2 separate regions of the Homo sapiens genome follow, and region 2 is linked to region 1. The links come from fine-mapping of genetic effects on gene expression. A gene starts in region 1. The other region holds a variant in brackets. All regions are shown on one strand. Distances are from middle to middle. Region 1 holds the start of ZNF615 (zinc finger protein 615). Region 2 has its middle 6.0 kb from the start of HAS1.

The links. PIP is the estimated chance that this variant, and not a neighbour inherited with it, causes the effect. A credible set is the group of variants that fine-mapping cannot tell apart.
Region 2: its variant is the best candidate, but not a certain one, in a credible set for the expression of ZNF615 in whole blood (INTERVAL, PIP 0.59).

The regions. Positions count from the first base shown.
Region 1 is chr19:52,006,606-52,009,517 of GRCh38, forward strand. It overlaps ZNF615 (zinc finger protein 615), which reads right to left and starts at 1,606. Exons shown (of 7, transcript NM_001199324.2): 1 at 1,536-1,606; 2 at 688-725. LOC124904755 (a long non-coding RNA gene) reads left to right here and starts at 1,693. Exons shown (of 2, transcript XR_007067321.1): 1 at 1,693-1,874. RefSeq lists enhancers at 1,367-1,976, 2,037-2,116.
Region 2 is chr19:51,728,548-51,731,459 of GRCh38, forward strand. No RefSeq gene overlaps it. Among named protein-coding and RNA genes, the nearest start is that of HAS1, 6.0 kb to the left of the region's middle. The variant CAG/C (reference allele first, on the strand shown) is at 1,780.

The DNA of each region.
Region 1 (2,912 bases):
AATGGTACTTATGTCTGTAACTTACTTTGAAATATACCAAAATCGACAACAAATAAGGAATGATTCACAAACAGAGGAATGGATGAATACTTAGAAAACCAGTAGAGCTGATCTAATACAATGTTAATGGTAAAAGCTAGGTGGTAGGCATATTGGTATTAACATTAAACTTCTTTCAATATTTCCATAGGTTCAAAAATTTTCACAAAATAATATGTTAGGCAGAGAGAAAAATATTGTAATACTAAGAATTAAGATGACCAAATATAAAATAAATATTTAAAATTAATTTATCTTTTGTTATAGATTATAAGGAAAGGGGAGTCAGAAAGCAATACACTGCAATAAAAGTAATAGTCTAGATTGAAGATTAAAGGCAGGAAAAACAAAATTCATGGATAAATGGATAATCATAAAATGTTCCTAAAAATAATACCTAAACATTTTAAAACATTTCACTTCTATCCAAATGTACGCATAAACTTAATGTGAATGCACTTATAGTACCACCGGCTCAAACAGTAAAAACAACTTCTAAATGTTTATTACATAATATAAAGCGAAAAAGATAATAGTACCATTTACATAATTTATCTGAATTATGAATATTAAGCACATAACATACACGTCTAAAATTGAAATATTCTGAAAATTTGACAAAGGTTATCTTTGAGTAACCGAGCTTACCATGGCAGAGATGTTATCTTACTTGTGTCAGAAAGAACCTGAAAAGAAATATCCAAGAGGATACGCTGGAAACTTGCAGGACAAAGGGTAGAAGCCGCATCTTAAATATAAAACATACTACTTTTAGGTATGCTAGATGACTGATCTCGCCAAAAACTTCCATTTCTGAGGATTCAAGACCAAGGGGTGATGGAAGGTGCCAAAGGGGATTTAAAAACCAGTCGTGGAGAAGGGTCTTGGGCAGAAGGGGAATGCTAATGAGCATCAATTCTGTTCCAGCAGCCAGGGCTGGGGCTAACCCATCACCTGCCATGGTTCCCAGGCCTCCAGAGCTGCAGCCCACATCGGAATCTGTGGCGCTACCACCACCGCCACCGGGATTAATTCCAAAACCTGGATCAGAAACCTCCGTACCTTAACCCCCAAGACAGTTCCTCAATCATTTAGTCCCAAACAAAACCTGAACCATAAACCGATTCGCTGACAAAACAAACCCTCCAGTTCGCAATCACTGAGCCCCGCCAAAGGACAACACCAAAGACACCAGAATGTGACTTGGGCACTCAGTAGCGGATCTCTAGAGATCTTTAACCACAAACTACACGAGGACCCTGTGACTGGTCCCAGAGGTACCCCGATCACACACACACACACCCTATCACGGACCTCTTGTAGTTCCCCTGCGATAGGAATCGGACCCACGCTAAGCTCCTGAAAGAATTCCACTGGCGTCGCCAAACGCTGGCGCCGACAGATACCAGTCCATCACCACTGTCCACGAACACGCCCAGCCACGGACAGAATTTCCTCCCCCGTCACCACAGCGACCACCCAGTGACTGAACTTACTTCCCAGAACTTGGTGGGCTCCGGCCTCATCTCTCGGCCTCCTCAGTGCCTGACGGCGACTATCCAGGGTCGGAGGCGTTCCCAGCGTTTGCGCAGATGCAAGATGGCCGCGCCCTCGTCGCCTTGGCTCCATGGGGGCCGCCATCTTTGAGTATCTGACGTACACAAGGCAAAGGGCGCGTTTTGGCGCTGGTGACCGGGGGTGACCGGGGGTGACCGGGGATGGCCGGGAAGATGAAAGAGCACTGAAACTGTCCCATTTCCTGGCACCTCAACCCTTCATAAATACGGGTCCATATACAGAGGCTCCAGTTTACACAAGACAAAAATGGCGTGGAGGTAAATCCCTTTCAGCAGCTGAATAGAAGGCTAAGATGGCCGCGACGTTTACACTTTGTACAAAGGTTAGGAAACAGTTCCTTGTGAGGGAAAAGGAGAACCGGCCGAGAGGGGACACTTCGGCCAAAGCCAGATTTCTAACAAAGTAGCTTGAAGCGCCTTTTGAACGCAGAAGAGGGCTGTTAGCTACGCTGACGGAACAGGGGTAGCAGTCACAGACTAGGTAATGAAAACGGTTGGAACGTGCCAAAATTATGTTGGGTGAAAGGCATGGGGAAAAGCCAGTAAAAGCCAGAAAGTATAGTTCCCAAGGCGGAGGGGAGAGCCTGGGACCCAGGTGGAGCCAAATATGAGGGCTGGACTCAGGAGAAGTGGCCAGAAATTAAGGGAACAGGACCACTTCAGTGAGAAAAAAAAGGTTGGGAAAGAGGCCGGGCGCGGTGGCTCACGCCTGTAATCCCAGCACTTTGGGAGGCCGAGGTGGGCGGATCACCTGAGAGCGGGAGTTCGAGACCAGCCTGACCAACATGGAGAAACCCTGTCTCTACTAAAAATACAAAATTAGCCAGGCATGGTGGCGCATGCCTGTAATCCCAGCTACTCGGGAGGCTGAGGCAGGAGAATCGCTTGAACCCGGGAGGCGGAGGTTGCTGTGGGCCAAGATGGCGTCATTGCACTCCAGCCTGGGCAACAGGAGCAAAACTCCATCTCAAAAAAAAAACAAAAGAAAGAAAGGTTAAGAAGGAGATCACGTTATACTACGTGTGCCAACCGCGAATAGTATGTGCAAAGTCATGGCAATGCTGAACTGTAAATATAAATCCAACCAAACTTCCTATATTAGAAGAATGAGAGAAAGGAAATGCCTGTGTGAATCTATGTGTGTGATATAGGTATCAGTATATAAATATACAGAGAAATTGTCAAACTATTTTTCAGAGTCAAGTTCGTGTTCCATTTGCTCTTCTCACCCTTGGTATATGAGAGTTTTTCTTTTTTTTTGTTTTTTTTTTGTCTCTTTTTGAGGCAAGGTCCACT
Region 2 (2,912 bases), 280 kb before region 1:
TGGACACAGACATGGCGGGCTAACTTGCCAAGCCCCTAACCTCAGCTAGTTCTGGCTACAGTTGCTCCTCGCTTTGCTCCATCTCAGGCAGGTACCTACTGGGGAACCAGTGAGGGCAAGGGGCCCCTGGGCAGTAACCTGAAGAGATCCTTGTTTTATTAAATGCTTGAATCCCGGTAGATGGTTTCTTTGCCAGGTGTCCTGGATTGGGAAGGGAAATGCACACTGCGGGGATCTAGATACCGAGAGACAGAGGAGAAAAGGAGGGAGGGAGAGGAATGAAAGACAGAAGCTGGCTTCCACGACCATCTATTCAACAGCGAAAAACTGCCCTACCCCTGGATTCCTGACCCCCTTTACTCTCTTCTGCTTTTTCTTTTTCCCCATAGCATTGGTCCCCTTCCTATATAACGTATAACCTGCATAAGGTACGTTTAGTATCTTTTTTGTGTAATGTGTGTCTTCCTGGTTCGAATGCAAGCTCTAGACAGGCAGCTGTCTTTATCTGGTTTGTTCATGGCTCATTCCTCAGAGCCTGGACCTGTGTCTAGGTAGGTGCTCAACAAATATGTGTTGAACAATGTGTGAGGTCAGGATAGAAAGTCAGATTGGTAGATGGAGAGGGGAAAGAAAAAGGAGAGCGACCGGGCACGGTGGCTCACGCCTGTAATCCCAGCACTTTGGGAGGCCAAGGCAGGTGGAGCACTTGAGGTCAGGAGTTCAAGACTAGCCTAGCTGACATGGTGAAACCCCGTCTCTACTAAAAACACAAAAATTAGGTGGGCGTGGTGGTGCATGCCTGTAGTCCCAGCTACTCAGGAGGCTGAGGCAGGAGAATCGCTTGAACCCGGGAGGTGGAGTTTGCAATGAGCCGAGATCACGCCACTGCACTCCAGCCTAGGCGACAAAGCGACTCTGTCTGGGGGAAAAAAAAATGGAGAGGAAGGAAGGAGGGGAAGGAAAGATAAGGGAAGAAGGAGGAAGGAGAGGAGGAGGGAGGGAAAGAGAGAAGGAGGGGGAGGAAGATCAGAAGAGGAGGAGGAGAATGGAGGAGGGAGAGAGAGAGGGAAGGATAGGCAAGAGGGGGAGGAGAGAAGTTGGGGAGAGAGGGCCTAGCAGCTGGGACCCCCAACCGACTCCTGCGTAATAGTTCTATGGACACCACTCAGAGTGGCCAGTCCTGGGAGGATGGGTTGAGGAGCTCCGGGGAGGTGGGACCTTAGAGGAAAAAGACTCCAGGATCAGCAAAGACCCCAAGTCTGTAAAGAGACTGCCTCTGGACTTCCAGGAACTCAGAACCTTGGATGGGCTGGAGTTAGACGGGACCTTTTCTCCCCCACATGCCTATTCTGGGAAACCCCTAGGCTTCCATGATTCTGCCGAAATCCAGGGAGGGAGGGAGGGAGCCTAGCCAGCAATGATGACTGTACATCCACCTTCTGCCTCCAGCTAGTGCCTCTGGGAGAAACTGTAGGACTTCCAGAGCTGGGAGGAGGGAGAGAAAGGCCTGGAGGGGGAGAGCCCTGCCTGTAACAAGTTGAAGGCACTTTCTACCCCAGCATGCACCATCTCTCCTGCCACTTTCCCTGGAGAGAAACAGAGACAGTAAGAGCCAGACAGAGGGAGAGGGAGGGAGGGGCTTCCTTTTGCAAAAGCTGTTTATCCTCTCCAGGGAAGCAAGAGAGGAGGAGACCCATTTTCCAGATAGGGAAACTGAGGCACAAGAAGAGTCATTTCCTGGGACAAGTGATACAGCACACAGGCAGCATGGCTGGGTAA[CAG/C]AAATCAGGTGGTAGGCATTAGGTCACTAGGCTATGCCCTGCCAGTCACAGAGGAAGGAGGAGCTGGGGGCTTAGACTAAGATCTGAGAGCCTGGATTCCTGAGTCTGAGGGAGGAGCGGCTGGGATCTGAATTCCCTGGTCTGAGGAAGGAGGGGCTGGACCTGGACTCCCGGGACTAAGGGAGGAGGGGCTGGACCTGAACTCCTGGATCTGAGGGAGGAGGGCCTGGGACCTGGACTTCTGGGTCTGAGGGAGGAGGGGCTGGGGGCCTAGACTCTGGGGTCTGAGGGAGAAGGGGCTGGACCTGGACTCCTGGGTCTGAGGGAGGAGGGGGTGGGGGGGCTGGCATCCAGTGGGCTCAAGATGAGGCCTGGACCCCTAGATTCTCAGCTCTACTGCGTTCCGAGCTATCAGGGAATCTGCCCCGATATTCATGTAGGTTCTTTTCTATTTTCCTTAAGCGTTGGCCAGCTTGAGAAATAAAGGGACAGAGTACAAAAGAGGGAAATTTTAAAGCTGGGTGTCCGGGGGAGACATCACATGTCGGTAGGTTCCGTGATGCCCCACAAGCCACAAAAACCAGCAAGTTTTTATTAGGGATTTTCAAAAGGGGAGGGAGCGTGCGAATAGGTGTGGGTCACAGAGGTCACGTACTTTACAAGGTAATAGAATATCACAAGGCAAGTGGAGGCAGGGCGAGATCACAGGACCGCAGGACCGAGGCAAAATTAAAATTGCTAATGAAGTTTCAGGCACCATTGTCATTGATAACATCTTATCAGGAGACAGGGTTTTGAGATCAACTGGTCTGATCAAAATTTATTAGGAGGGAATTTGCTCTTCCAAATAAGCCTGGGAGCGAGCGCTATGGGAGACTGGAGTCTATTTCACCCCTGCAGTCTCGACCATAAGAGACAGGAGCACCTGGGGGGGATATTTATAAGCCTATACCTCCAGGCGCGTATTCTCTTTCCCAGGGATGTTCCATGCTGAGAAAAAGAATTCAGCGATATTTCTCCCATTTGCTTTTGAAAGAAGAGAAATATGGCTCTGTTCTGCCTGGCTCACCAGCGGTCAGAGTTTAAGATTATCTCTCTTATTCCCTGAACAACTGCTGTTATCCCGTTCTT